Homo sapiens: one gene and its partners. The protein of the gene in region 1 purifies or fractionates together with the protein of each later gene. This does not show direct contact. Each region holds a gene or a part of one and is shown in the gene's direction. Other genes may lie near its edges.

The links.
Region 2: the proteins of STK35 (region 1) and PRR14L purify together in Homo sapiens (affinity purification with mass spectrometry; 2 studies listed by BioGRID and IntAct, with this or other methods). This does not show direct contact.
Region 3: the proteins of STK35 (region 1) and CDC37L1 purify together in Homo sapiens (affinity purification with mass spectrometry; 2 studies listed by BioGRID and IntAct, with this or other methods). This does not show direct contact.
Region 4: the proteins of STK35 (region 1) and UBP1 purify together in Homo sapiens (affinity purification with mass spectrometry; 2 studies listed by BioGRID and IntAct, with this or other methods). This does not show direct contact.

The regions. Positions count from the first base shown.
Region 1 is NC_000020.11:2,103,615-2,112,249, forward strand, and holds part of STK35 (serine/threonine-protein kinase 35), read left to right. Parts: intron 1-8,635.
Region 2 is NC_000022.11:31,679,212-31,684,132, reverse strand, and holds the end of PRR14L (protein PRR14L), read left to right. Parts: 3' UTR 1-2,786; downstream 2,787-4,921.
Region 3 is NC_000009.12:4,674,431-4,683,236, forward strand, and holds the start of CDC37L1 (hsp90 co-chaperone Cdc37-like 1), read left to right. Parts: upstream 1-5,138; 5' UTR 5,139-5,337; coding exon 5,338-5,469; intron 5,470-8,806. UniProt on the Homo sapiens protein: Co-chaperone that binds to numerous proteins and promotes their interaction with Hsp70 and Hsp90.
Region 4 is NC_000003.12:33,436,469-33,445,727, reverse strand, and holds the start of UBP1 (upstream-binding protein 1), read left to right. Parts: upstream 1-5,322; 5' UTR 5,323-5,879; coding exon 5,880-5,992; intron 5,993-9,259. UniProt on the Homo sapiens protein: Functions as a transcriptional activator in a promoter context-dependent manner. Modulates the placental expression of CYP11A1. Involved in regulation of the alpha-globin gene in erythroid cells.

The DNA.
Region 1 (8,635 bases):
TAATAAGTGCTCAAGAATTGCGAGCTATGGTTATTAAACGTCTTCTATTTTTAAGATCGGTTGGGGGAGTGGAGGAGGGGTCGGGTTCAGTTAGTAGCAGAACTGCGGAGCCTCCTCACCCCCGAGGGCCTCTCTCTTTCCCTCCCAAAACAAACAAAAAGAAAAAACTTGACTGGACCCACCCACACCCTCTCCCTGTCTGGTTCCAAGTTTCCTGACACCCTCCAGCTCCAACCCCCAAACTCCTGTGGCTTCCTCGTCTGCCTTTTCCTCTGAGGCCCCCGGCCCTTCATCCCAGGCAGCCGAGCAAACTGACTGTCTTCTGGCTTGGTCCTCTGAGGGGTGCAGGCTGACAACCCTCACAGGTGGCCTGAGAGCTGTCACATAACAAAGCATCCGGCATCTTTTCCCTCCGTTTTACATTCTTAATCTTTTTCTTAACCTCAGAGGCTGGCTGGGAAGTGGTTTTACTTAAAAGGAAAATGGGGTACATTGAGGCAAGAGGTCTTGCAGTCCTGGAGGAACTAATTATCTTAGTTTCCGGGTTTTAACTGCAGTTAGGGAATGTATTCATCCTAACTACTCAGTACTCACAAGCCTTTTTCATACTACCAGTAGCTAAGTGTCTGCTTGGAGAGGAGAGAGGCGGTAGAAAGTTTGAGGAGACTTTCCGAGGCAGGAGGATCCAGGGGAAGAAAGTTTACTAATCCGAGTCCCAGCTGTGGTCTCAGTGCTGAAGTAATTTTTAGGTAATAACTTCAAAAGTAAATTCTATCCTTTTTCTATAAATAAACTAAGGCTTAGAAGTGAACAAATAACTTGATCAGGGTTAATCCGCTTGAAAGGGAAGTTAGACTGTACTCCTGGTTTCCTTACATTTCTCAGAGCTTAAGTGACGGGGATCCCAGATCTGTCTTGATTCGAGGCCTGGATCCTTTCGAAGGCGTAATGCTGTTCTCTGCACCCTGAGGATGAACTTTTTTAAGAGTGGGTAGGATTTGGGGTGAGTTTGGAGGGGGTGGTTTCCCAAAATCTTGTTACTTTTGCACAACTTAAAGATCCCCCAAGTCTTTCCCAAGAGAACGCTTTGTCCCATTGCAAGTCAGTTGTTTGACAGTGGAGTTGGAAACATGAATCAGTATCACCTAGAGTCCTTTAATTAGATGTCTAACTTTATAAAGTCCATCCGTGCCCCATCCATTCTGAGAAGCCTACCCTCTCCCCAGGGTGAGTGTTTTTGTTTTGAAAAGACTTCCAGCAGGGCACAATGGCTCACGACTGTAATCCCAGCACTTTGGGAGGCTGAGGTGGGAGGATGGCTTGAGCCCAGGAGTTTGGGAACAGCCTGGGCAACAAAGTGAGACCCTGGTCTCCACAAAAAATAGAAAAAAAAATAGCCGGACCTGATGGCACAGGCTTATAGTCCCAGCTACTTGAGAGGCAGAGGCAGGAGGATCAGTTGAGCCTGGGAGGTTGAGGCTACAGTGAGCCATTATCATGCAATGGCACTATAACCTGGGCGACTGAGCAAGACCCTGTCTCAAAAAAAAAAAAAAAAGACTCCCTAGGGGATTCGTTTATCTTACCTATATTCTAGGAGCGCATCACTTACTTTGAAGTCTTTCTATTCTCAGACTTCTCTTAGTCTTCTCCTTTACTGCCAATGAATGGTCTGGACTTCCTACTACAGGATTGCCTTGGGATGTAGGAATTTGCCTTGCCGAATGTTTATTCCTTGTGTCCTCAGTTCATTGACGCCAGTCTCGAACCTTCAACCTCAGCTTGAAGCTCTTGCTTACTCTCTCAACATATAAATACTATGTGGACTTTCCTCACCTGAAGAATTTGTCAAAATTCCAAAGTGACCCCATGGCAGCATAGCATAGTGGTTAGTACCATGGACTTTGGGGTTAGACCCTCTGGCTCATCCCAGGACTGACTGCACAAAACATGGAGCAAATTGTTTGAACCCTGTGAGGAGCATTCCTTTATTGTAAGATAGTGGGTATGTACCTATGACATTAGGTACATAGGGTCACTGTGCAAACTGTTAATGTCAGCAAGTGCTCCACATAGGGAGGAATTCACTGCCTTATATAAGTTCACACCATGTTCTGTACTCTTCTACCCTCACCCCCTTCAAGATTCACATTGTTCTTGCTCAAGTTTCCCAAACTTGTTTCATCATAGAACACACCTTGTTTTCTGTGTTGTCAGGCACACCAAGTTGACAGAAACACTGGTGTTTTCATCCTCCCTTTGTGAACTAAAACTGGGACCTAGAAAAATGAAATCTTTTGCTTTAGGCCGTACACTGGATTGGATTGGTCCCTTTCAGTTGTTTGGAGTCTTTAAAATATTTGAACCTCTACGGTGTTCAGGGCTCAGAGACAGAGCAGTGAAGAAAATATGTGTTGTTTCTGCTTATGAAAATGACATTCAAGCTGACTTGCAATGTGTGGATTTTTCAAGTAGTAAATAGGTAATCATTTTTGCTTCTTAAAATAGAGAACAGATACCAAAATTACTCCAGGTTAAACTTTGCTTATTCTGGATTCCAAAATTTAGGGGTCTTGATCTGTCCTGGGGCCTTGGGTTTACAGCATGCAAATACCACCCAGTAATGTTAAAGCTGGAAGGAATCGTAGAGATAACCTGGTTCAGCTCTCTCATTAAATAGAAAAGTCCTTTACAGTCACCCTTGGCCCTGCCTCCTAAAACTCAGAATGATTTTGAACAGGCCAAAAAGTGTGAATCTGCCTTGAAGTCTCAACTAAACCTAATGCTGAGTCCCTACTGTGGTATTTGAAGGGAAAGAAAAAAAGCAAAGCAAAACACACCACCCCTTGCCCCAATGGAACTTACATTTGAAAAGTTTGAGAACTGGAAGAAGATTTAAATGCTATTCAAGATCACTGGAGGAAATGACCAGTCAACTCATAAGCAAGGGCTTTGCACAAGAATTAAGAGGAAAGAGAATCAGGAGTTAGGGAGAAGGTGGGCTTGAAAGTAGGGTGCCTAGGACTGTGGATAGGCGAAGAGACAAAGGGAGTCCGTTTCACTATTTGGCCAGTAAAATAATCCAGTATCGAAAAGAGAAATGTCTTGAAATGCTGTTCTTGGTCTTACCCCATTTTGTTTGATAGCCTTAAATGCATTGTCTCCTTCCATTCTGTGCACAGACCAAACACGTCCTACCCAGAGGCATTAAGACAGCAGAAGCTTCGGAGGAATAGAAAGAGGTCTTAGATGTGTGACCTGGCTGCCTGTTTCACAAGGAAGGAAACTGAAGCCCAGAAAAGGGACAAAACTTTTATCCACAATGAGTTAGTGATAGCACTCAAACCAGCCTCCCAGGCTTTTTAAAACCACATTTACAATCCTGTAAATTATTTGGTTGAAGGGTTGGTGCCTATGTTTTTAACTTTGAAATACTTCTCACATAAAGGTTGGGGGGGTGAAGGCATCAACAGTTTGCTTTTATCCCCTTGTTTTCCATTGCGAGAATGCCTGTCCTGAATGTGCCTAAAACAAAGTTCAAGATTACTGCCACTTAGACAGCAGGCAAGCCTGAGTCACTGTCAGTCAGAAATTCTGTTGCTTTGTCTAAGGCACACACTGATTCTTCTGACAAATAGCAAGTGAGGACACACTCACAGACACTAATCCAGGACAAACTCTCAAGACTCATATAACAGAATAGTTAGAAGTTTGGGAGAGCCGGGAGCCTAGCTTACACTCAACTTGATAAGACACTAATTGTTCTTTACCAATTGTTTGATGTCGATGCCTTTAGGTGGCTGGGAACCGAGGCCTTGGAAAGTAATCTTGCCTGCACACCAAGTGGCTTTGAGCCAGGCTACTATAAGAGGCCATGCAGAGTTTTTCTCCACGAGGCATGCAGAGGACGCATGCCCACATGAACATAATGCAGGGTCACAAGTGGTAGCATCTTAGAAAATAGTACAGTTGTCTGGGAGTTTAGTTAGGGGCATTGGGGAAGCAGGGGAAGGAAGAAGCTGAGGGAGGAACTATAATAGTATAGGATAGACCAGGGTCTTAGCAATAGATGGGTTGTCAGCCTGCAAACTTCCCCAACTTGTCGAGTGCCTAGGGAACCTTCAGAGCAGAGCAAGGCCGTTCCCTCCCCAGCCCTTAGAAAAGCAACTCTGAATCCTCTTCTGTGGCTTGGGTCTCAGAGTTTAGAGAGCCGCCAGGTCAAGAGGCAGAGAGCTGGCTGGCATTGGGGAAATATAAGTTAACACAATACAATAAAATGCTAGACTCAGAGTCAGAAGGTTTTAATCCCAGTTTCACCCTGTAAATAAGAGCTGAAACTTGCAGGTTGCTATGTATCAGGTGAAGTCAGTACCGTGATTATCTTCATTTTATAGGTGAGGCAACTGAGGTACCAAGGTTAGTGAAATTGCCCAATGTAAAACAGCTAAGCAAGTAACCAAGTCAGGATTCAAGGCCAGACATTCAAACTTGAGTATGCTTTCTTAACTGCTGTGGGGTACTGCTGGGACAGGTAGCTTAAGTTCTAGGTTCTTCTGTTTTTCTTGGTTGTAAAATGGGCATAATCATATTTTACTCAGAAACTAATGGCTCAGGCCGTGTGCGGTGGCTCACACCTGTAATCCCAACACTTTGGGAGGCCGAGGTGGACGGATCACCTCAGGTCAGGAGGTGGAGACCAGCCTGGCCAAAGTGGTGAAACCCTGTCTCTACTAAAAATACAAAAAATCAGCTGGGCGTGGTGGCGGGCGCCTGTAATCCCAGCTACTCAAGAGGCTGAAGCAGGAGAATCACTTGAACCCGGGAGGCAGAGGCTGCAGTGAGCTGAGATCGCATCAGTGCACTCCAGCCTGGGCGACAGAGCAAGACTGTCTCCAAAAAAAAAGAAAGAAACTAATGGCTCCTCTTTGTTTTTAGTTGTATATTGATCAGTGCTTGTGGCACTGCTGATTTCTGTTGGTTCCTTCTGTGTGTCTCAGCTGCCAGGGACCCCACCTGCTCTCTGCTCTACTCTTGAATGACTTGGGGCAACCACACAGACTTCTTGCTCCTGACCGACTACTTTTTATGTGCATTGGGGATTTTAGGTACCAGCCCCAGGAGACAGAAGCAGCCCTTCCTTAATTGAGAGCTTTGGTTAATTGGGGTTGCGTTGGGTAAGGCTTTTTATAGTATAAACTCTCGAGGGGTGCTTCCTAAGTAGAACTTGTAGTCTGCTCATATTCACCTCAAATGTGGCCTTTGCTGGTATCTGTAGGGCTAGGAACCCTCCTTAGTGACTTCTAAATTCTGGATCCTGACCTAGTTGTCTTTAACTTGCATATTCTGCATACCCTACTACTACTTTCTGTGTTCTTTCTCTTTTTACACCTCTCCAGCGCATGACTTTTATCTTGATTTATTTCACCCTCTTATCGACCACCTAGGTGTGCATGTGGTATACTGTGGGGAACCCAGAGACTTGATTTCATTCCACCGTGAGTGCCCAGTCTAATGGAAGAGATGGTTACAGTACAATAGATGTTACTTCACTGCAGCCTGTAAGAGGTGCTCTGGGTGAATCAGCTGCCAGGAATGTGGACTAAATCTGGGGAAAGGAAGGATGAGTTGTAAAAGGGTAAATCAGAAACAAGCCTGGCAAGAGCTGAGGCTTAGGTGTGTGGCAAGGCCCATGCATATGGAGAGAGATACTTGAGCCCGGACTGCCATGGATTAGGGGTACCCCAACTCTCTGCCTGGCTGGTGGATTCTACATTTTAACAAACCCCTGTAATGTTCCAAGTAGTAATAGCTAGCATTTCGTAGTATTTTCATACTCCTTTTCTCATTTAATCATCACCACTGTAAAGTTGGTGTTTATATAACTTGTTCTTACAGACAAGAACGTCAGTGTCCATCAAGGTCAAGTTGCTTGTCCAGCACAACACTAGAGAAAGGTCAGGGCCTAGGTTTACATCCAGATGCTCTTTCCAGTGTCCATGTTCTTGACAGGCTGCCTTGTGACCGTGTTGGACAGCTGCCAGTGGTGTCCAGAGACATTAGCATAATTCACACCCAGTAGCAGTCTGCTCTAGTGTCCAGGCACCATTCAAGGTGCTTTGTATGTCACAGTTAAGCCTTAGAGCAGTCCAGTGCTGTAGGTGTTTCTTCTCAATTTATAAAAAACTAAACAGATTCTTAGTGTTCTAAGAAATTTGCCCAGGATCATATAGCTATGTAATTGGGGGATTGGGGGCAGGTAGTAGAGGGAATGTTGACCCCAGGCCTGGCTGGCTTTACAGCCCCTGTCCGGCCGGTGGGTTTACTCTTGTCCTCTTTTGGACACTGTGTTTTGCCCTGGCAGCCAACAGAACAAGTCTGTTAATCTTAGGAAGTACTTTGGACACACCCTGTGGTGTTGCTATGGTACCCAGCCTCTTTATAATGACATAACAGCACAAAATCATTGAGAATGGGACCAATTCTTGGTCTGCATTTTCATATTTCTTTGGGAAGATGTGCCAGGATGGGTCCGTGTCTTTAGCTTCTTAGGACAGATCTTTGGCTGAGCCAGCTCTTTAACTAAAATATTTTAATGTACAACTCCTAATTAAACAGGGATGGCTATAGTCATAATTTATTCAAACTTCATTTTTCGGGGTTCCCTCATCCTTTTTCTTAAGACATAACTTTATAATTTTAATATTCTGCCCTTTTCCCCCCTTCACATTAAAACTTGCTTATTACATGCTATGTGACTTTCTCTTTTGGCTTTTTAAGTAAACTTTTGTTGAAGTATAATATGGTCCTTTAAAACTTTCAGCCAATTGGTATTACCATAGTTAACTGTTACTCATTCTCATTCTTGGACAGTAGTTTTCCAATCCTCCACTTTGACTTACTCTGTATGGAATACCAGTTCTGAGTGTCTCTGGTGTTTGGTGTGTGTTTTTTTGTTGGGTGGGGAGGCTTGTTTGTTTTGTGTCTTTTTGACACTTTTGGAATGAATTCCTCAAGTGGGATTTTTCTTTCAAATGGATCGAGCATTTCTAAGACTTCCTATATGTATTGCTGAATTGCTGAAGTGTGCGTAAGTCAAAGTCCTAATTAGTCCTCTGCTGAAAGACAGATCTGCATGTTGTGTGGTTGGACCATCACGAGGGACTGGATGAACATTAAACTCTGGGGGGCACGCATCAGAGTCTGCTGTGGGAACTAGCACATCCAGGTGTGCGATTTTGCTGCAGGCACTAAGGCAGTCACAGTGCTTCTGCTGAGAATCTAGCCTATGGAAACTCAAGGTCCTGCCCTCAACTAGGCAAGTTACTTAATCTTTTGCTCCTGAGTCTCCTCACCTGTGAGAGGAAATGTAATTATTATCTGAATAGATAGCAGTTTCGAGTAACCAGAGAGGAATGGCAGAGCACTCTCTGAATTCTTCCTTTCCATCTTATGTGACAAGTTATTAAATCTTATTTATCCTAAACTTCTAAGACCTTTCACATCCTCTTCTCACCTCCTCCCTTGCCAGCCCTCACTTCACCAGGTTTCAGAGCCTCTTGATAAGTCAGTCGGCCACTAGGCTGTCTCCCATCGCCAACCCCTCATGCCTCCATAAGGAACTTGTTTCATTGTCCAAGATATGCTCTTTCACAGTTTAACGTCTCTGAAATCAGCGGTTGACTTAGTCAATGGTGTGCCCATAGCGTTGTCAGCAGCCTATATGGCTTACTTAAATGGTATGCCTTAAAATTGGTGACTTGTAGATTCTGTAAGCGACACATCTCTAAAATACGTCAGTGGCCAGGCGTGGTGGCTCATGCCTATAATTACCCAGTACTTAAGGAGGCTGAGGTGGAAGGATTGCCTGAGCCCAGAAGTTCAAGACCAGCCCGGGCAACATAAGGAGACCCTGTCTCTACTAAAAATAGAAAAGAATAGCCGGGCGTGGTGGTGCATGGTTGTAATCCCCACTACTCTATTCGAGAGGCTGAGGCAGGAGGCTCCCTTGAGCCCAGAAGGTAGAGGCAGCAGTGAGCTGTGATTGGCTGCACTCTGGCCTGGGCAACAGAGCTAGACCGTTTCAAAATAAGTAAATAAATAAAATGTATTAAGAACTTTCAGTCACTTCCCATTTCTTGGAGTCTAAATCCACCTTAGAAGATATCCAGCCTCATTCCGGCACATCTACAGAAACTCTTCTGTGATTATCCAGACTACTCGTGTCCCTGGCGCACACCCACCTGCTCCTGTGCCCACTCCCCTCATCCTGGGAGACGCAGCTGCAGGGCCTCTCGCAGTTATTCTCAGCCTGCCTTCCTCTCATCCCAGCTTCTCTCCCAACTCTTCTGGCAGATCCGGGCCCGCTTCCTAGTTCTCACAGCTGTAGTCATTCTGCTTCTAATGACCAGAAGCCTATGTAAGGGCAGGGATGCCCCTCAGCTCACCGCACCTCTGTCTCAAGAGCAATGTGTGCTCAGAAATTGTTGAAGTGGCGTTGACTAAAACCTGGAAATCTAACTTCTGGAGAAGGCTTAAGGATAGGCTTGTAAAAATCTAGAGCATTTTGTATTTCTTTACAGGAAGTGCCTGTCTTTCCAAAGCTCCTACTGGCTTGTCTTTATGCTGAGCCTGCTGG
Region 2 (4,921 bases), on another chromosome or scaffold:
AGTCCTGTGTGTCCATATCCTGCTCCCCTTCCCCTCCTTCTCTAGGGGTTTCTCTTTCTCTCTCAAAACAAGAGTTTAGAGAATTAACATTCCATGGCTAGTGAGTGGGATGCAAAAGTCATCGTCAGGACACCAGCATCACCTCTTCATATCCTCCTGGGAGCCACTGGCATGGAGCAGCCGCCGATGGGAACCGTCAGAGTTCTAGGGACATTTCCAAGTCAGTCTATTAGAGAAGAGTGAGTGGCACGTCCTGGAATGTTGGCCAACTCTCCTAGGTTTCTTTTGCTTCCCCATTTGCTAGTGGATGGGGAGATGGGTTGGGGGTGGGGGGTCTCTATGTGCCTTGCTTTTGCAGGTTGACAGTCTATGCCACACTGGAGCAGAAAAACTGACATGAGCCAGAGGGAAAAGTGTGCCACGGCTATGTTCTAGGCCCACTGCCTCAGACATAGCATTGAGACGAGTGAAATACACACTTGGTCATCCACGGAGGCTTCCAAGGCCATGGCCAAATACAGTTAGAAGAGAGCCAGGCTTCCGTACCAGCTCTGAATGATGCTAACCAGATTCTGTCATTCTACATCCACTTTGCCCAGACTGTATAGACACGACCTATGTTTCACCTCAATACCTCTCCCTTCCTGGGACAGGGTTCTTAGACACTAAATGCTTCTCTCTGACTTTTTTGCTTAAGGGAGTGGGATGAGTAGTACATTTTGCCCTTGTCCAGGCATGTTTAAGGAGCTCCTACTGGACAGGTTGCAGACTAGCAGTGAGTCAACAGAGCCCTGTTTGCCAGCTCTGTTGCCAGTATAGATGCAGTGATGTGGCGGCTATGTTTCCCAGAGACAACAGTGGGCACAGCTATAGTGTCACCAACATGGCAGAGATAGTTTCAACTGTGCCTGTTACAGGTGTGGCACTCGAAGGACCAGAAGCAGCGGTTTGGAACATGGGTAACTGGGAGCAGAGGACTGGAAGAAACAGAGCTGGGCTCCTTCCCTGTCCTGACAATGTAGGAGAGGAGTTGTTGTGAGGCCAGCCCTGCCCGTCGTTGAAATTCTGGACCTACCCTCTAGCTAGGTCCCTTCCCCTGCTCCAAAGTTGAGAAGGGGGCCCCACTGCAAACTTGAAATTACTTACCTGAAGGTGATGTATATACCTAGGCTCCAGCTGCGCTCAGCCACACCTGTCTTAACATTCAGTTTCGGCACTGAGCCAGCTGCAGTGTTGTCAGGGGTCCCCAGGCCCGTGGTCCCTAACCACGATGGGACATGGTAATCGGCTGCTGGCACACCACCTGCCCAGAGCTACAGGAGGTCTGGTTCTGGGGTGGAGTTGGTACAGTTTCTGAGTATGGGAACTTCCCTCCCCAAGTGGTGGGAAGTTACAGTTAACTACAGCTTACTCAACTATCACTTCCAGAGGTTTAGTGTTTTTAATATGGGAAAGAGGAGAAATCTCAGGTCTAATCAGGGTTCTGCCCATCAGCTTTTCACTGAAACTTTCAACTGTGTTTTGTTTTTTGTTTTTTTTTCCATCTTTCAGTTTCTAGCTGTGTTTGCCTTCTCCCTCCGCGTTCCCTCCTCTTTTTTTGCTTTTGGTCTCCTTTCCAGCTTCATGTCTCCATGAGTTCAGCTGTACCTCATCTCCTGTTAAAGCAGATCATGTCCACTTTTTCTTACTGACCTTACTCTAAGCTACAGTAGCTGAGGGAGGTACGGTGAAGACATGTAGCGTTTGCCTTATTCGGAGCCTGAGGAGCCCAGAAACCCATGCTGTGAATCCCAAAACTCAGCGCTCCTCAAGAGCTGTGAAAATCATGATACTTTGTCACAATTTTGCCTGAAAGGGTCTTTGGCACGGGCTCCAGAGCCAACCTGAGGTCCATTCCAGATCCCACTATCTGGGCGTGAGACCTCCCCCGTGGCTCCTTCCTTGCCCACTGAGCCAAGAGCAGCAGGGAGCGTACAGGACGGGAGCAGCAGATCCAAGGCCGCGGTGCAGCCAATGAATGCACGGCCGTCGCTCCGTCTCCAGGCTGGAATTCCGTCTCATAATCAATGCCATGTACATTAAGATCTGCGAAAGACCAACTTTTAGGCAGTGATACTTTTCTCCCATTCCCTGGGGTGGGGGGAGTATGCAGTTGGTGCTTTCTGTAATTCCCTTGTTCTGTTTTGTTTCTGTAAGCTTTTCCCCTGGTGTCATGGAAAGGACTTCTTAAATAACCACATTGTGGGTGGCTGTATCCAAAGTTTAAATAATTGGCCAGAAGTGCAGAGTATCCTTTCCTGGATTCGTGTCAGAAAAGGGCTCCTTGCCACAACTGAACTTACTGTATAAAAACCTGGCTAGGGAGATTTAATTTTACTAAAATTACAGTTTAATGTTACCGTCTAGCCACAAATCAAGCAGCAAAAGCTATTTTGATGATGAAAGGGGGTCCCCGTTGAGCTGGCCATCTAGTGCAGTGTGCTCTCAGATTCCATGTTTGTTGATTGTGTGTCTTCACAAGCCCCTCTCTGGTGCTGAATTGGATTTGAATTCTTGGTGAGAGGCCTCAGCATCTCCTTGGGCTGGTCTGGGCCAGTAAAAATAGCTGCCTGACATGTTTATATATTATCATGGTCAGTAGTTCAATGAAATTTGTACATTTTTGGTAACATTGGTATACATGATGCCCCTGCAGTTCCTTTTCTGTTTGGTAGTTTGTGACTCTAAGATTTCCACTGTTATGTGTGTTAATTTATGAAAATAAATTTTTTTGAAAACCTTTCAAATAACTCTCAAGGCCGTTACTTTGTTCTCGTGGCTTGGCAATAAGTTAAAATAGACATTCCAAAGTTATATGTCACAGTAAGCATCGTTCCTTCCAAAGTGGTCACCATTTTCTGAGGAGTATCCTGTTGTAACTGTGGGACCAGCTCAAACTGATTAACCATTGCTTAAGTTGTTACAGGTGAGACAGCCAAAATTGCCTGAGCGTGCACAGTGGAAAAAAGCTTTAACGTTTTAATTGTTACCACCACGAGCCTGGCAGGCCGACTGCATTGGCATCACCTAGGACTAGATAGGAATGCCATAAAAGCTTGACCCACTTCCAGATCAGGGAGACATTTGAGCATTGCTTCCTGTCTCTGTGCCAATTGACTTTTTTTGGGGGCGGGGGGTGGAGTTTCACTCTGTCGCCAGGCTGGAGTGCAGTGGCATGCAATCTCAGCTTATTGCAACCTCCACTTCCTGGTTTCAAGGGATTCTCATGCTTCAGCCTCCCAAGTACTGGGATTACAGGCACCCACCAACAAGTCCAGCTAATTTTTGTATTTTTTTTAGAAGAGGGTTTCACTATGTTGGTTGGGCTGGTCTTGAACTCCTGACCTCAGGTGATCCCCCCACCTCGACCTCCCGAAGTGCCCGGATTGCAGGCGTGAGCCACTGAGCCCAGCCTCATTTACTTTTTTTGAGACAGAGTTTCACTCTTGTTGCCCAGGATGGAGTGCAATGGCACGATCTCAGCTCACCGCAACCTCCGCCTCCCAGGTTCAAGCGATTCTCCTGCCTCAGCCTCCCGAGTAGCTGGGATTATAGGCATGGGCCACCACGCCTGGCTAATTTTATACTTTTAGTAGAGACGAGGTTTCTCCATGTTGGTCAGGCTGCTCTTGAACTCCCAACCTCAGCTGATCTGCCCGCCTCGACCTCCCAAAGTGCCAGGATAGCAGGTGTGAGCCCCCGTGCCCAGTCCCTCGTTTACTTTTTAAAAGATCTCACCACTTAATACTTGTCCTTCCCAGCTGTTTATGAGGTTACGCTATGAATCTTCTGCTTCTCATTTAGCCAATGGAAACTGGTAAAAGAATGACTGAAAACACCTCTGTAACACCACACTGATATATTCCAGAAAGAAGCATGATTCCTGGTGACATTCTTCCTCTGCCCAGAGCAAAAGCAGTGAGTGCCCAGTTTCCCTTCTTGGCCTCAGAACTGCAACAAGGAATTCTATCCATGTAGTCTTCTATTTACAGAACTTAACTGCGTGACAGCTGTGCTTCTTGTTAGGTTTCATGGTTATTTGGAGAAATGTACTCTCCTACACCATTTCTTGAGAAAAGAGTTGCTAATTAACAGTTAAGGCAGTATAATCTCTTTAACCTCTCATTACAGAATCTTGTGTTGGTAGAGCCTGGTGAAGACTGATCAAAACTAATTTAAGGCTGAGCGCTGTAACTCATGCCTGTAATCCCAACACTTTGGGAGGCCGAGGCAGGTGGATCACTTGAGGTCAGAAGTTGAAGACCAACTTAGCCAACATGGTGAAACCCCATCTCTACTAAAAATACAAAAATTAGCCAGGCATGGTGGTGCACGCTTATGATCCCAGCTACTCGGGAAGCTAAGGCTGGAGAATCACATGAACCTGGCAGGCAGAGGTTGCAGTGAGCCAAGATCACGCCACTGCACTCCAGCCTGGGTGATAGAGCGAGACCCTGTCTCAAAAAAAACAAACCACTGATTTAAGAATCCTGGCCAGGCGCAGTGGCTCACGCCTGTAATCCCAGCACTTTGGGAGGCCGAGGCAGGCAGATCATGAGGTCAGGAGATCGAGACCATCCTGGCTAACATGGTGAAACCCCGTCTCTACTAAAAATACAAAAAAATTAGCCGGGCGGGGTGGCGGGTGCCTGTAGTCCCAACTACTCAGGAGGCTGAGGCAGGAGAATGGTGTGAACCCGGGAGGCGGAGCTTGCAGTAAGCTGAGATCGCACCACCGCACTCCAGCCTGGGCGAAAGAGCGAGACCCTGTCTCAAAAAAAAAAAAAAAAAAAAAAGAATCCTCTCTGTGGTGTCCTGTCCTCTTCCAGCAATGGAAAACACATTTCTATTTACTTTCCCTTTTTTTTTTTTGAAACAGTCT
Region 3 (8,806 bases), on another chromosome or scaffold:
GCGCTGGTTGTTTTGCTTTTTTTTCTTTTTTCAGGCCGAGTCTAGCTCTGTTGCCCAGGCTGGAGTGCAATGGCACAATCTCGGCTCACTGCAAGCTCCGCCTCCCAGGTCCACGCCATTCTCCTGCCTCAGCCTCCCGAGTAGCTGGGACTACAGGCGACCACCACCATGCCCAGCTAATTTTTTGTATTTTTAGTAGAGACAGGGTTTCACTGTGTTAGCCAGGATGGTCTCGATCTCCTGACCTCATGATCCGCCTGCCTCAGCCTCCCAAAGTGCTGGGATTACAGGTGTGAGCCACTGCGCCTGGCCAGCGCTGTATTATAATAGTGATCTCTGCATGAATATCCAAAACAGGAGCTGGCAATTTGAGTATTTCTTTACATATACACACTTCTCAAGAATTTTCCAGGAATCTTCCAAGGAAGGAATCAAATTGCAATTGCACAGCTTTTAACAATCTTGAAGTCATTTGGGATGTGGACCCACACATGGGTTCTGTTTCACCCAACTTTATTAGAGTTTATGAGTCAGACTCATGTTTCTCTTTGGCTTGTGCTTTCATTTACTGGCATTTGTAGGCTCAATGCTTACATAATGATGCAACACAAGTCCTTCCACAAGGGCTGCCCTTGGGCTTTTTGGACTACATAGTCTTTCCATTTAAAAGTAATTTCTACTCAGAAAAAAACCTAATTTGCTCCTTTGAGTTTCAGCTGGCTAGCTCTATGTCCATGGGAGTAATAGGCAAATTATGACCCAAAGCAATTTCCAAGGAATTTTATTTATTATCCAAAATAAGAAAGTAGAAGTGTATGATTAAGTTCCAAGACTTGTTTAAAAAGTGTCTACTGGAGCTGGGCGTGGTGGTACATGCCTGTAATCCCAGCCACTTGAGAGGCCGAAGCAGGAGGATCTCTTGAGCCCAGGAGTTTGAGACCGACCTAGGTAACATAGCAAGAACTGTTTCCAAAAATAAGTGTTTACTATGCCAGGGCACAGGATTCAGATCCTGAAGTCAGCAATGGCTCAAGATGAGGCTACTTCTGATATCATTATATCCACTCCTTATCTCCTACCAAAATATACTTCTTTCTATTCCTTTTTCACCACCTTCTGCCTTTATTTAACCTTTTCTTTTATCCTTGTTTCCATTCATTCATTCTCTATCCATTTATTCAGCCCACATTTATTGAGTGTCTACTGTAAGCCAGGTATTGTTCTGAGCCATGTAAGTACAAGAGTGAATAAGAAACAATCTGTGCTCTCATGGAGCTTACATTCTATTGGGGTAAGAAACATAATAACTAAGTGAACATAAAATAATAGTATGATGAATAGTAGAAAGGAAATATACAAGGTGGTAAAATAGAACAGGTTGAAGAAGAAACGAGAACTTCATTTAGACTCACTGGCCAGATTGGCCTAAGAGTATGAGATTTGGTCTAAGATCTAAGAAGAAAAGCATGACCACTAGCAAGCCTTTCAAAGTAAGAGAAAAGGCAAAGGGAATAGCAACTCGAAAGGGCCATGAGTTAGGAAAGGAACTGCCATGTTTGAGGAACTGAAAGGAGTCCAAGAGAGATTTTGGGGTGGGAGAGGGCAAGGAAGGTGTTAGGGAGAGGGTTTAAGAAACGACATTCAGGGCCGGGTGCAGTGGTGCACACCGGTAGTCTCAGCACTTTGGGAGGCCGAGGCGGACGGATCACCTGAGGTCAGGAGTTCGAGACCAGCCTGGCCAACATAGTAAAACCCCGTCTCTACTAAAAATACAAAAATCAGCTGGGTGTGGTGGTGCACATCTGTAATCCCAGCTACTCGGGAGGCTGAGGTAGGAGAATCGCTTGAACCCAGGAGGTGGAGGTTGCCGTGAGCTGAGATGGCGCCACTGCAGTCCATGCACTCCAGCCTGGGAGACAGAGCGAGACTCCATCTCAAAAAAAAAAAAGAAAGGAATGACACTCAGGAATTAGGGTGCCACTAGGTTTCACAGGAACTTTATCAATTATGGCAGAGAATGTGATTGCCTACCTTACTGCCACAAACTCTTCCTCCTTGCTAACAGAACTCCAGTTTTGTTTAGGTAGCAATGCATCCAGCTCCAGACAACAAATCATAATTTATGTAAGCCAGTTCTGGCCAATAAGATATAAGGATTTCACTAGAAGGTTTCGAGAAATATCTTTATTCTTCATATGAGAGCCACAAGTGAATAAAGCTGTTTTGCCTCCTTCTCTGTCTTCCTGCTTTAGCTTCTGCCATATTTTGATGTGATGTCCAGAGCTGTAGCAGCCATCCTGCAACCATGATGTAAGAAGCCTGAAGATGAAAGTAAACAGATTTAGGATGCTGGGGAGGAGGGATAGGGATTGAAAGAACCTGAATCTTCCTTTCCTTTTCCTTTCCTTCCCTTCCCTTCCCCTCCCCTCCCCTCCCCTCCTTTTCCTTTCCCTTCCTTTCCTTTCTTTCTTTTGCGACACAGTCTCGCTCTGTCACCCAGGTGGAGTACAATGCTGTGATCTCAGCTCACTGCAACCTCCACCTCCCGGGTAGCTGGGATTACAGGCATGCACCACCAGGTCTGCCTAATTTTTGTATTTTCAGTAGAGACGGGGTTTTGCCATGTTGGCCAGGCTAGTCTCGAACTCCTGGCCTCAAGTGATCCACCCGCCTTGGCCTCACAAAGTGCTGGGATTACAGGTGTAGGCTACCACGCCTGGCCTGAACCTGAATATTTAATGACATCTTCAAACTGCTAAGCCTATCCTGGGATCATTCTTTTTGTTACATACACAATAAATGTCCTTATAGTTTAGGTTTCTTTTAGCTGAGGTTTCAGTTATTTGCATTGAAAGCATATAATTGATATAGCAGGGGTGAGACATGATATGATTTATGTATTTTTTAAAAATCTCTCTGGCAACAGTATGAAGAGATTGTAAGGAGCAAGAATGGAACAGAAGCATGGAAGACTACTGCAGTAGTTCTGAGAAGCAATCATAGTGTTCTGGCCTAGGGAGTATGCAGTAAAGCAGGAAAGAACATAGATTCAAGATGTATTTGGGGGTAAAAACAGTAGGACTTGCTGTTGGTATGAGAGGTAAAGGAGAGGGAGGAACTAAGGCTGAACTCTAGGTTTTGGACTGGATGGTGATGCCATTGATTGACACGGAGAAGACCCAAAGAAGTTTGGGGAAGGCGGTGAGATCAAGGGTTTGGATGTGTTAAATTTAAGATGTGTATGAACCATTAAAATGAGATGACAAATCAGCGGGTAGACATGAGTCTGGAGCACAGGGGTAAGGTCAGGACTTGGATTTCAATTTGAGAATTATAGATACACAGATGTTATTTAAAGCCACAGGAATAAACAGGATTCTCCTCACTGGCCAAAATATGAGGAACTCTAAAGTTAGAGGTCAGCTAGAAGGGAAGAAGACTGAGGAGAAGTAGTGAAAGAGGTAGGAGAAAAACTAACAGCATTAGCGTTTATATAGGGCTTACTTTATGCCAGGCACTATTCAAAGCACTTTGTGGCTTCATGGAAGCAAAGAGAAAAATGTTTTTCTTTTCTTCCTCCCTTTCCAGTCTCTCCTGTGACTTTCACCCCTAAATTCAAAAGGTTTAGGTGCAAAAGTGATTCTCAGCTTTTATTTGTAATTAATTTTATAGTAATCTTGTACTGTTATAATCTTGTACTGTTATAATACTATAATTATAGTATACATTCATTGGAAAAATATTCAAACAGCACAGTACAGGGAAGCTAAATGTGGAAAGTAAAGATCCTCAGAAGCTTTCCTTCCTAGGCTCACCCACCAGAGGTAATCATTAACAGTTTCTTGCATATCCTCCAGGAATGTTCTGCGCAAACACACACACACACACACACACACACACACACACACACGGACGCAAACAAATACCATCCCTCTCTCTTCTCTCTCTGTATACGTACGCATATGTTTAATTCTGCAAGTTGCTTTGTTTAAAACTCAATACCTTTTGGAGGTATTTATATATCAGCATATTCAGATACAATTTACTTTTTTTAAAAAGGGTAATATGCCATTGTATTAATATTCCATACTTTAAGTTCCTCTATCGATGGACAATTAGAATGCTTTTTTTTTTCTTGCCACACACACACAAAAATTGCTGCCAGAAATCTTTGTAGTAAATCTTTGGATATTGGTGCAAAAATAATTGTTGCATACTTTCTTAGTGGTGAAATTGCTGAATCAATCCGCTCAAGCCTCTCATATTGTCAAATTACTCCTCCTAAAAGGTTATACTAATGACATTCTCACATCATTTCCTTACATCTTGGTACACATTTGGTATTAAGCGACTTCACAAGTTTGCCAGTCTAAACACATGGAAAAAAATGGCGTCATGTTGTTTTTATTTGGGTCTCTTTATGAGTAGGGCAGCAAGACCTGATTGTTAAACGTTCAAGTTTTGAAGTTAAACTCCCTGGGTCTGGATCCTACTTCTTCCTTGTAAAATGTGTGATCTCGGGCATGCTGGGTCTACTTCCTCGTCTCAAAAAAAGAGGATAAAGAGAGTACATATCTTTAGGCTTAAACAAGATACGCAGGCATACAGGAAGCCCTTCTTATGCGTTCGCTACTAGCGGTACTGATCCTAATTTTTTTGAAGCCGTGCCGGCTCCGGTACTTTATTTTTGGTGTGCTCCTCCAACCAACCAAGTTTCGCAGAATTCTGTTGTTGCCTGTAATTAGAAATGAGACGAAAATTGGCTCCGCTTGTTCAAAATTCTCCTCCCTCCGCCCCAACTCTGCCTTAGAATCACTGGTTTAAATGTCAATGTAAAGGAATGAGTTGCAATTTTTAAGCAACATGTAAAGTGCACACCTGGTCTGAGTACCTCCCGGCGGCCAGGACCCGCCGTTTTCGGTATAGGGAACACCAGATAACAATATATAACGCTACCTAACAAACGTTTCTCCACCCACAGCGCCATTAGCGGTTAGGTTTGCAGTGCCGAAGAGCTGCAAGAAAACGGGGCTTGAAACAGGAATACAATTGCAGATCCACCCACTACACGCAAAGGGCCCGGGACGCGCCTCCACAGCCCCGCCCCAACCGGAAGTGACGCACCGCGCCGACTATTTCTTCCGCCGTCCGCCGGTGGCGAGGCCCAGGCTGTCGCCGGGTGTGCAGCGGCGTCGCGGCCAGTAGAGGGATTCTGGGTAACGGCCCGGACCCCCGGCTGGGCTTCTGGCTCGGCGCAGCAGGTTCCATTCACGCCAAGTCTGTTGGCAGTGGCAGTTGTAGGGCCAAGGGCGGTTGTAGGACCCGGAGCAGCCGGACATGGAACAACCGTGGCCGCCTCCGGGACCCTGGAGCCTCCCTCGGGCCGAGGGTGAGGCTGAGGAAGAGAGTGACTTCGACGTGTTCCCCAGTTCTCCCCGCTGCCCGCAGCTGCCAGGCGGCGGCGCCCAGGTGAGAAGGGGCCTGCGTTCTGCGGAGGGATGGAGTGGTGCTGTCGCCAAACCCCTGGAATGCCGCGTCTCCCAGACCCTCTTCTACGCCTTTTTCTACGCCCACCTCACTGCCAGGGGCCGGGGACCTGGGACCTGACGCCTGATGCCATCCCACCCCTTTTATGGCATCTTCGGAGGGCAGACGGGGTGGCCATATATTACCAACCTCCACCTCCACGCACATGTTTTCTTTCGCCTTGGCTGATTCCTGTTCACTCTTGGAATACCTTCCTCCATCTCCCCTTCCTGACAGCACTCAGATTTGGGGCGGCTCATGCTGTAACATTGACCCTTTGTCCTCTTGTGAGAGGTTTTCCCCAAGCACTTTATTCTGTTAAAGGCTCTAGCATACTTGTGCACAGTTGCTAGGAACAGTGAATGATTGTAGTTCAGCATCACACTGAGTCCTGACAAAGATTTCACATGCGATTTTCACCGATGTTGACAACTGAGTAAATTCTTTAAATCTCGCTTTTGACGCTGGCGTACACCTCTCCCATTCGCGTGACCATCTTTGCCTTACTGTTTTGTTTTTTAGTTTTGCTTCACGTCATTCTCCAGTGAAAATATATACGCATATACTTGTGTTTTCCTTCAGACTTCTCTTAGGTTCCTGGTATTGTGTTTTCAATCCAGCATTCCTGCCTTCCTGCGACTGAAACGTATCCAAATGTGATATACTATTAAGGATTTTTCAGGGACCTATCTTAGGGGATACTTACATACTCGCATCACCTTGTCCTGTTTTTTTCTCCGAATCCGTGTGTGTTTTGGAAGTATATTTCAGAATCACAGACTAAACACTAATATATTCAATGGATCATAAGTGTCTGCCGCCTTCTTGCAAAATGGGGTTCCCAAGAGTGTAACAGATTTAATAGTAGTTTTCCTCTCAACTTATTTTGCTAGATGTTAATGAGAATGAGTTAAATTGCTTACCAGTAAGCGTGACATTATCAATCTTATGTCCAGCTAACAGGGTTAGTTGGCTTCACACAGAGAAAAATGCTGTTTCATAACCACTGTCTGTACTTTGGCCAGCTAAGTCACTGGGGAACTACAAGACATTTTTTAGGAGGACAGAATGAGAGTTGATGGGTCCATCATTAGTCACCCACTAATTTTGGATCACTAGTGTCATCTTTATATACAAAATGTATTATAAGCACATGATGTGCTAGGGAGGAAAGAAGAATGAACAGCAGATGCCATTGTCAATTTTGAAGGCATATGAAGAGAAAAAAGGGTGTCAAGAATTTCAGTGCATTGTGGTTGAATTACAGAAGTAATCTAGAGAAATATCTGTATGTTAATTTCTTACTTGTGCACTTCTAAATTTGTTTAGCTGGAAGAGATTTTAGAAGTGAGTAAGCTTATCTCTCTCATTAAAAGTGTTTTCCCTGAGGCCATGTAACTAGTTAGTGGCCAGGTTAAAACTAGAACCCACTTATGACTCCTAGTCCAGTATATTTTCCCACCTACTGCACTGCCCACCAGAGTTCGAGACCAGCCTGACCAACATGGAGAAACCCTGTCTCTACCAAAAATACAAAATCAGCCTGGTGTGGTGGCGCATGCCTGTGATCCCAGCTACTCGGGAGGCTGAGGCAGGAGAATTGTTGGAGGCAAAGGTTACAGTGAGCCGAGATCACACCATTGCATTCCAGCCTGGGCAACAAGAGCGAAACTCTTGTCTCAAAAAAAAAAATTTTTTTTGCAAACTGATTATTAATTCTGAGTTCATGTGTTTATTACAAACCTACTTATTGGTCTTACTGGCTTTAAGACTTAAATTTTTGGATTGGAATATTTGGAAAAAATAAAATGTTTAATTGATTAACATTTTATAATCCTAAAAAAAGCTTTGGCTTAATTTTATCAAATAAGGGGGATCTAGACTTCTTAATGTAGTATGTGATATGTAGTTCTTAGATCCAATTAATGTAAAGGCAGATCATGTTTAATGTCCCTCTAAAACTTCTGTATGGTCATGGATTAGAATGTGACCTAATATTTTATTTAATATCTGAATACATGTTGGATAGTTTGCCCAAATGGCCAAATGTTGTCTGGGTAGTTTGTGGAGAAATAAGACATACATTATTTTTAGAATTTTTCGATTTGAGAAAAGAATATTTGCTCCCAAATAATTTGAAAATGCAAGATAATTTCTATTTATCCATATTACCATATTACTTTTCTTGATATATTATCCTTTCTCTTTTTTTTTTTTTTTTTTTGAGGCAGTGTCTTGCTGTGTTGCCCAGGCTGGAGTGCAATGGCACGATATTGGCTCACCACAGCCTCCGCCTCCCAGGCTCATGTGATTCTCCTGCCTCAGCCTCCTGAGTAGCTGGGATTACAGGTGCCCACCACTGTGCCCAGCTAATTTTTTTTTTTTTTTGAGATGGAGTCTCGCTGTGTCACCCAGGCTGGAGTGCAGTGGTGCAATCTCGGCTCACTGCAACCTCTGCCATTCTGGGTTCATGCCATTCTCCTGCCTTAGCCTCCCAAGTAGCTGGGACTACAGGCACCCGCCACCATGCCCGGCTAATTTTTTGTATTTTTAGTAGAGATGAGGTTTCACCACGTTAGCCAGGATGGTCTCGAGCTCCTCCTCGTGATCCGCCCGCCTCGGCCTCCTGAAGTGCTGGGATTACAGGTGTAAGCCACCACTCCCGGCCATGCCCAGCTAAGTTTTAAAATATTTTTAGTAGAAACGGGGTTTCGCCATGTTGGCCAAGCTGGTTTCGAACTCCTGACCTCAGGTAATCCGCCCGCCTCAGCCTCCCAAAGTGCTGGGATTACAGGCGTGAGCCACTGAGCCCAGCCAAAAGAAGTTTTATATACAAAAGTTCTTACATCTTTTCTTACAAAATAAGTTATATAGCTTAATTTTTCTCCTTTTCCTGGCTCTGTTTTAAGCATAGCTAGTCTACAGTTATTCTTGATCCTATTCTAAGATAACTATTCTTGATCCTATTCTAAGATAACAAAAAGTAAAAATAAATATTTTATTTTAAAATATTATATTTTATATTAAAATATTTTATATTAAAATATAATATATATATTAAATATATATTATATTTATATATAAAATATATTTTAAAATATATTTTAAAATATACTTTATATATTTTATATATATATTTTATTTTTATATATAAAATATATTTTATATATATTTTATAATATATGAATATATATTATAAAATATACTTAGGGACATGGTTTATAGTACCTTGGCTCCAAACCTGCTGAATGAGTAAATAAAACATCTGAATAGCAAGTGT
Region 4 (9,259 bases), on another chromosome or scaffold:
TCCCAGCTACTCAGGAGGCTGAGGCAGGGGCATCACTTGAACCCAGGAGGAGGAGGTTGCAGTGAGCCGAGATCGCACCACTGCACTCCAGCCTGGCAACAGAGCAAGACTCTGTCTCAAAAAAAAAAAATTAAACAATTAAAAAACCCCAATATAGATAACTGATGTTAATACCTTTATTACCTCATAATCAGTCAAAAACTTTAGTCCACTCCTCTTAACCAATATCATAAATTTAAAAAAAAACATTGCCAGGAGGCCTTCAGTCTTGTAGATACAGACATCATTTATTGTCTCTTTTTCCATAATTTAGAATAAATGAAGCAATGATTAGAAATTTATCCCTCATGGCCAGGCATGGTGGCTCACACCTGTAATCCAACACTTTGGGAGGCTGAGGCGTGTGGATCACATGGTTAGGAGTTCGAGACCAGCCTGGCCAAAATGGTAAAACCCTGTCTCTACTAAAAACACACACACACACAAAAAAACAAAAAAACCTGGGCATAGAGGTGCACGTCTGTAATCCCAGCTACTCAGGAGGCTGAGGCAGGAGAATCACTTGAACCCAGGAGGTGGAGGTTGCAGTGAGCCGAGATTGTGCCACTGCACTCCCGCCTGGCAACAGAGTGAGACTCTCTCAAAAAAAAAAAAAGGAAAAAAAAAGAAATTTATCCCTCATGGCCGGGCGCGGTGGCTCACACCTGTAATCCCAGCACTTTGGGAGGCCGAGGTGGGTGGATCTCCTGAGGTCAGGAGTTCAAGACCAGCCTGGCCAACATGGTGAAACCCCATCTCTACTGAAAAAAAATATACAAAAAATTAGCTGGGCATGGTGGCGGGTGCCTGTAATCCCAAAAACTCAGGAGGCTGAGGCAGGAGAATCACTTGAACCTGGAAGGCAGAGGTTGCAGTGAGCCAAGATTACACCATTGCACTCCAGCTTGGGCAACAAGAGCAAAACTCCATCTCAAAAAAAAAAAAGGCCGGGCATGATGGCTCACGCCTGTAATCCCAGCACTTTGGGAGGCTGAGGTGGGCGGATCACAAGGTCAGAAGATCGAGACCATCCTGGCTAACATGGTGAAACCCCGTCTCTACTAAAAACAGAAAAAAATTAGCTGGGTGTGCTGGCGGGCACCTGTAGTCCCAGCTACTCGGGAGGTTGAGGCAGGAGAAAGGCATGAACCCGGTAGGTGGAGCTTGCAGTGAGCCGAGATCGCTCCACTGCACTCCAGCCTGGGTGACAGAGCAAGACTCCGTCTCAACAAGTAAAAAAAAAAAAAAGAAAGAAAAAGGAAATTTATCCCTCATAGTAGACTCTATAGCTGACTCTACTGCAAAGGCCATGGCACAACAGACTTTAAGTTCTCTTGCTAAAGTTGTGCTAGATAACGGAATTGCTGTATATTACTTACTGAGATACAGAGAAGTATGTATCTCTGTATGCAGATACTTCTCTGTATCTGCATACAGAGAAGTATGTATCTCTGTATGCAGATACAGAGAAGTATCTGCAGTTGCTCACACTTCTTGTTGCACAGAGATGAACATATCAGGTATTATAGAGATTCAGTTACAGGGGATTAATAAACAAGCTGCTTGGTTAAAACAGCTTGATCTTTTATCTAGCTCTTTCTTTGATCTATTTGATTTTAGTTAGTTTAGTTCATGTTGACCCTGGCTAAGGGGCATACTCCAAAGTCTTGGTATTATCCTCTTGGTAATCTTAATAGTAGTCTCCTATGTGCACTAAGGACTTTCAAAAGTTTTAAATGTTTACATACAATCATCCATAAAATGTCCATAAAATTTAAATAAATAAAAATTCCAACATAATAAAAAAAAAGTATCCTCTACTCTAACGCTTACCAGAAAATAACCTAAAGTCCTTATTCGCACCTTACAAAACCCACTGTTGTACTATTTCCCAATGGGATTTGCGACCAGATAAGTACATTTACAATGGTCAGAAAGTAATGTCAATGTCTAGGATTTTGGTCAACCTCTCTATTTTGGTCAAGTTGAGAGGTTGAACAAAAGGGGAGAAATTGTTAAATTGAGTTTAGCCTAAAGTTGCCTCCTTATAAGTTCAGCCTAAAGGTTTCTCTGTACACAGTAAATTGTAACCTAACTGGATGTATAAATGGTCTATAACCTATTATAACAATCGCTGAGTTTTGGCTAATTACAGGAGGCCAACTGTTCAAATAATACACTCAACCAATCAAGCTGTTTTTATATCTCACTTCTGTTTTCCGTACATCACTGTCCTTTTTCTGTCCATAAATCTTCTTCCACCATGCAACAGTGTTGGAGTCTCTCTGAACATATTCTGGTTCGGGGTGGCTACCTGATTGACAAATCTTTTTTTTGCAAAATTAAACTCTTATATTTAATTTGTCTAAAGTTTTCTTTTAACACTATCCTTCTTTTATATTTTGGTCTCTTTATGACATTACTATTTAGCGCTGCTTGATACTTCTATTTTTTTTCCAGACAGGGTCTCATCTGTCACCCAGGCTAGAGTGGCATTATCATGGCTCACTGCAAGCCTTGACCTCCTGGTCTCAAGTGATCCTCCCACCTCAGCCTCTGGAGTAGCTGGGACCACAGGTGCAGGTCACCATGTCTGGCTAATTAAAAAAATTTTTTTGGCCAGGAGCGGTGGCTCATGCCTGTAATTCCAGCACTTTGGGAGGCTGAGGCAGGCAGATCACGAGGTCAGGAGATCGAGACCATCCTGGCTAACACAGTGAAACCCTGTCTCTATTAAAAATACAAAAAATTAGCCTGGTGTGGTGGCGGCCGTCTGTAGTCCCAGCTACTCGGGAGGCTGAGGCAGAAGAATGGTGCGAACCCCGGAGGCGCAGCTTGCAGTGAGCTGAGATCGCACCACTGCACTCCAGCCTGGGCAACAAAGCAAGACTCTGTCTCAAAAAAAATTTTTCTTTTGTAGAGGCAGGGGTCTCGCTCTGTTGCCCATGCTGGTCTCAAATTCCTAGCCTCAAGAGATCCTCCCCTCTTGGTCTCCCAAAATGTTGGGATTACAGTTGTGAGCAACCATGACCAGCCAACACTTTTATTTCTATCCTCCAGAACTCTAATTTTTTTTTTGTTTTTTGTTTTTCGTTGTTGTTGTTTGTTTTTCTAAGGACAGGGTCTCATCTTGTCATCCGGGCTAGGGTGCAGTGGCACAATCATAGCTTACTGTAGCCTCAAACTCCCAGGCTCAAGTGATCCTCCTGCCTCAGTCTCTCTCAAGTAGCTAGGACTACAGGAGCGTGCCATCATGCTCAACTAATTTTTTTTTTCTTGTAGAAGCGGGATCTTGCCATGTTGCCCAGGCTAGTCTCCCAATTGCTGGCCTTAAGCCATCCTCCCAAGCTTTAAGTCTTGGTCTCCCAAAGCGCTGGGATCATAGGCCTGAGACACTGCCCAGCCTGAGGCTCAATTTCTAAATATTTGACCCAGTACTTCCTTAGGGCACAGCCTGATTGAAAAATTGATGGTAGCTTGTACTTTTACACTCTCTCCAAAAACCAGAGAATTATCTTCCCCCAATTCCATTTCTCCAAATTTTCCAACAACTAATAGTAGGCCTGGCTAATCTGGTTATAGACTAGGTTATGCAAGTGAGGTGAGATCATGGAATGAAGACATATCTGAGACCCCCAATGAGACCAATGTTTCCCTTGACTATCCAATTGTTTGTGCAGATTTATTTGTAATAGTGGAATGGAGCTTCCTGAACTGATGGCCAATCTAATGTTTTCGCCTGGAATCAGAGAAATCTGGATTAGTCAAATAGCCCCGGTTTACCTGCTTACTGTGTGACCTTGCACTGTGTAATCTTTACACATTTTCACCTGAATTACCTCATCTCTAAAGTATGGCTTTATCAAATGAAATGTTTGCAAAAATGTTGTGTAAAGAGAAAAACATTCTCCAAGTTAATTTGTGGTTTTTTTTTTTGGAGACCGAGTGTTGCTCTGTCTTCTCCCGGGTTCAAGCCTTACTCCCGCCTCAGCCTCCTGAGTAGCTGGGATTACATGGGCGCGCCACCACATCCAGCTAATTTTTGTTATTTTTGGTAGAGACGGGGTTTCACCATGTTGGCCGGGATGGTCTCCTGACCTCAACTAATTCACCCGCCTCGGCCTCCCGAAGTGCTGGGATTACAGGCGTGAGCCTGTAAGTTAGTATCTAAATCACACAGGCGTTGAGACTATTTTTTTCTGGCTCAGTGCCACTGCTTTATTAGGCTGACATTTTAATCTATGTATTTTTGCACTTAAACTGGCAAGTTGGGGCGGGGCGCTCAGCATTTGGGTCTTATTCTTAGGCAGTAAGTTCGATGCAGGGCGAAGCCCGGGCCTTGACGTTCTCTTCAGCAAGGATTCCGCCCGTCAAGCGCCAGCAGCCGCTCCTAAGGAACTCTGATCCGCACACTGGCTCTGTAAGTCAGCCTCTGGCTCCTGCTTTCTATTTCATCTCTTCCGGTAAAAAGATTTCTGTCTTTTGGCCGCAGTGGCGCGTGCCCACGCTAGGTCGCTGAGGAAGACCCTTCGGGCCTTCTGAGCAGCGTAGCTGTTACTGTGGCACGTCCTAATGGTTCGGTCCAACTTCAGGAGACCGCCTGCCCTTAGGATGACCAACAGCTAGTTCAACTCAGGATAGCCAAGCTGCTCTCGGCAATGCAACCAATAGGGGAAGTCTTTCCAGAGCTCTTTCTCAGGAGCGTTGATTGGCTTATTCTCACGCCAATCAAGGTTTTCTGCACAACTGGCTTTTCTGTCACCAGATGGGGTGCAAACCGCTCACTCCCTCGGTAGAGAGGGCATAAAGCAGAGACGACCGGGAAATACCACAGAGGAGCAAATCACCTCCGGAAGTGGCGTTTTGGGTCGCTTTCTACCATGCAGTCCAATGAACTCTTTCTTTTGGCAACAAATTCCGTCTTCGAGCCCGCCCAAGGTGAAGAACATTTTGATTGGTTGTTTAGTCGGGGGACACAGAGACTCACGGGAGCTTCGTCCAAGCCCTTGCAGGTATTGCTCAGTTGGCCTGTCAATCATCTCGCTCGCTAGAAGGGGCGGAAACTGGCAGCCCTTTTGGCACCGCCTCTTCCTGGGCTGCTGTGCGGGGACGCAGCGAGGCCACCCCGGCTGGGAACAGCCGCGTGGGCGGGGCCGCATTGCACTCTCTGGACAGTTCCTGGGCCGCGAGGCGCGGGGAGTGGCCCTAAGCGCGGGGCTGTACGGGGAGGGCCGAGGCGTGGGGCGAACGCCGGGGCGGGGTCGGGGCGGGGCCGGGGGAGGCGGAAGCGGCGCGTGAACCTAAGTCGGAGTCGCGTTGAAGCCAGCGTCCGGCCGGCAGAGCGGCGTCGGCGGGGTTGGCCGGGGCGGTGTGGCGCTAGAGCCTGGGCGGGCCGGGGGCAAGGAGTCAAGGCTTGGGGGCGGGTGACGGGCGGGCGGAGGGCTTGCCCCCGTGTGGTCCTCGGAGCGGCCCGAGGTCCAGCCTCCCAGCGGTCCCGGAGGAGGATGCGACCGGGGGGCCCCGGGCGGGGCGGTCGGCGGCGGCTGCAGCGCTAGCGGCGCGGGGGCTGGGCGGCGGCGCCGGCATGAGGCGCAGGGCCGGTGTCCGCGGGAGGGTGGCGCTGCCGGCGGCCCGGCCGCTCCCGCTGCAATTGCTCGCTGGGCTCGTCGTGCCCTGCCAGTGGGGCCCCCGCAGCTCTCGTCCCGGCCGCCGCTGGTGACCACTCGCCGCCCCTCCGGAGGCTTCACCCGCGCCCTCCCCCAGGACGCGCCAGCGGAGCTCCGGCTCCTTCGCCCTGGACGCGGAGGCCGCGGTGTGCGGGGCGACGGCGAGGCCGGAAGATGGCCTGGGTGCTCAAGATGGACGAGGTGATCGAGTCCGGGCTGGTGCACGACTTCGACGCCAGCCTCTCGGGCATCGGGCAGGAACTGGGCGCCGGCGCTTACAGCATGAGGTACTGGGCTCCCTGGGCGGGGAGAAGCCTCTGTCTCCTTGGGGAAGGCCTGCGCAGCCCTGAGTCTCTGCCAGATGCGGCTGCTCCCAGAGGTGCGCGGGCCTCCTGGGCTGCGGGGTCGGAGTCCTGCCGCGTGGCGGTCGGGGGCCATGGAACCCCAAAGGCCTCTGCTCGCCCTGGTGACGGGCGGGTGGGGGAGGATGGCCCCGCAAGCGTCGGCCTCGGACCGCTCCTGAGTGCTTCATATTTGCTGTAAAACACGCCCAGCTATTAGGATGGCTTGGGTTGGTGGGGGAAGGGGCTTCTTTTCCTTATAAGTGATTTACAAGTCCCATTGGAGCTAGAATACACTGTACGAAAAGGCAGCACTTATATTGGGAGAATACTGTCTAGCGTTTTGGGATCAGTTCCTACTTTGTTGTCCTACATTATGATCTTTTCTGGCTGCAGATTTTAATCACTTGATGTTAGTAAATTATAATTGAAAGAGCAGCGGTGGGAGTAGCACTGTGACTTCGTTTTGTTCTTTTGATTGTCTCAAAGTGAAGTTTCTCATTTTGGAGACTACCCTCTCAGGCTGTTTCCTCTTGAGGGTTTTAAGATGCAGTGATTGCACCACAAATAATTGTTTAGTCTCTGCTGTCTGTACCAGCAGTCATTCATTTTAATATGGAGAGATTGAAACAGATCTGAGCTTAGTCTCCGCCCTTTATCCTTTTTAACTGTTAGGAATTTGGAAACTCTGTATTTTTTTAGTGGCTTTATTGAAATATAGTTTACCATAGCGTTGACTTGACTAATAAAGTCTAAAAATCAGTGGTTTGGCAGCTTTTCAATAATGTGAATTAAGTGTAGCTTTCTGTTCTTTAGAAAATGTCTGATGTTTTGGAAGTGCTCTACAGTTTCCCAGTAGCATTCATACATCTTACTGCAGCTCTAGAGGAGGACTTCTGGGTTAAAGCTGGCCTGGAATCTTGGTGGCTGCTCCTTGAAGTAATTGGGTCTTTAAATCTTAAGGAGAAATTCTGAGCCATAAAGAACTCTCAGAAAGGTTGGAGACATTTCTTGGAGTGTGGAAGTGAGTAGTGGAAGGCATATTAAACCTGGAGTTCCCCAGCGTCTGGCTCTGATTTGGTCTCTGTTGGGCTTCCTGAACTTGGCACCTCTTCTCTCTGCAGTTGTATAACTTAAGGCCTGTAGATGAGTTGGCTTATTTTCTAAAACAGCTGTTTCAGTTGTTGAGGAAATTGAGCTACTGAAAGTCATGGAGTCACCCCAGAGGGGAGTATTAGAGGCAGTGCTTCTCTAGTGAAAACGCACTCCTCTAGTGCCATTCTGCTCCTTAGCTCTCTACTGGAAACACGAGGCTTATAGTCAAGGCAAAGGAGGCACGTGAAGCAAGTTCAATATGTGTCTCTCCTCAGTTGCTTCTCTTTTATGGTAAAATGAAAGTTTGCTGCTGAAAAGTTTACTTATTGATAGCTATTTTGAGCTTTTACTTTTTTCTAGGGTTTTATTTGACCTGTACTTTGATTTAGTGATTCAGCCAACTTATTAATGTAATAACTTCTGTGTATGGTTTATTTCCATGAAAAGGAAGTACAATCTTGATGATTTTAAACCTTTCCCTGACCATGTATTTTTAAAGTAATGTGTGAGATCTTTGTAATTCTGTGTAACCTACAGTACTCTTTACAGGGATAATTTTCCCTTGAATTCTTTTTTGGTTGTGTCATTTAATCTAAATTTTCAAAGAAGTTTGAAGGTAATTACCATTTTTAAGAAGGTTTTTTTTTCGTATTTAATTGAGTCCTCAAAAACTAAGAGATGAGAGTGCTTGCCTCTTGCAAATTCAAGGCCCTTTGTTTGAAATTCTCAAACTAAGGAAATTCCAAAATTGACTCGATAAGGAGAAAATCTGAAGAAGGCGTTAGCTGCTGCAGGCCTCCCTGGACTGCAGTTGTACTTTCCATGCCTGGCCCTGGAGCCCTGAGAGGGTTGGAGTGCCTATGAATGGCCAGCTTGAGCATTCAGTCACTTCCTCTGGCATCCAGTGGGAAGGAAAGCTTATCTTTCAAAGTTCAAGAAGTAAACTTGAAGAAATTACTGGAAAAATGACTTCTTGATACAAATTGATTTTGTAGGCAGCTTTCTATTTTTCTTTCAAAATGAAACATGCTTACTGTATTTGCTTTTTGGATGGCTTAAAACAAGAGGTATTTCTTAAAAGACTTCTCTTAGGGAATGGTTTCCTCATCTTTTGGGAGGATAGTTTGAAAGGAAGAAATGGCTTCTGTCAGTGGTCTGACTTAAAATTAGGCAGGTGTGATGTTTGGTATGCTTGTAGACCTAGCTACGTGGGAGATTGCTTGAGCCCAGAGGTTCAGGGGTGTAGTGTGTGCTATGATTGCACCTGTTAATAGCCACTGCATTCCAGCCTGGGCAAGAATGAGACCCCCTTCTCTTTTGTTGTTTCCCCCCACCCCTTTCTCTTAAAACAGTAGGAAAAATATGTTTGTGTAAAATAATGTAGGCTGGTAATATTGGGAATATATTGGGGCTAATTACTAACATTACCTTTGCTTCTCTTTTTCTTTTGGCTCTGGTTCTCATGTGTTCTGTGTGTGCTGTTGTATTATACTTTTTTGTTGTTGTTTTTGTTTAGTCTTTTTTGGTGGTTATATTTGGATGTGAGATGTGAACTGCAGCAGATTCTATTTGAAATGAGGCAGGTCATAAATGTTTTTAAAAATCTTGGTTACAGTAACAGGATTTTAGAGATGGATAGAGACCTTCCTTAGAAACCTTTTAGAGTCTAGACCACTCCTTTTCTTATACTGTAAATGCATTATCTGAGGGTCATAGATGTTAAAGTGATTGGCTTAAACAGATGAAGGCTGATTTTTCCCCCACACAGAGTGAAGACTGAAACTCATGGTAACTTGAAATCTGGGTCATTCTCGTTTTGTGAAGTATGGAGTAGATAACCAAATGACTTTAAAAAATAATACTCATTAAAACTCAAAGAGGGTCTTTGGACCACCTGGTAATTTTCTTTCCATCTCACTGTATGAAATTTATCATCTGTAGCCAAGTTAATTTTTAGGATTTGGGGGCTCAATATTGAAATATTTTTGAAGGTTATAGGAAGTAATGGCTTGTATAGCTTACTCTTTTAAAAATTTTGATATTAAATTATTACTTTAAAAAAGGTATTGTCTGAGCCCTGTTTGTTAAACTTCGCTGTGGTATAAATCTCTTGAAACA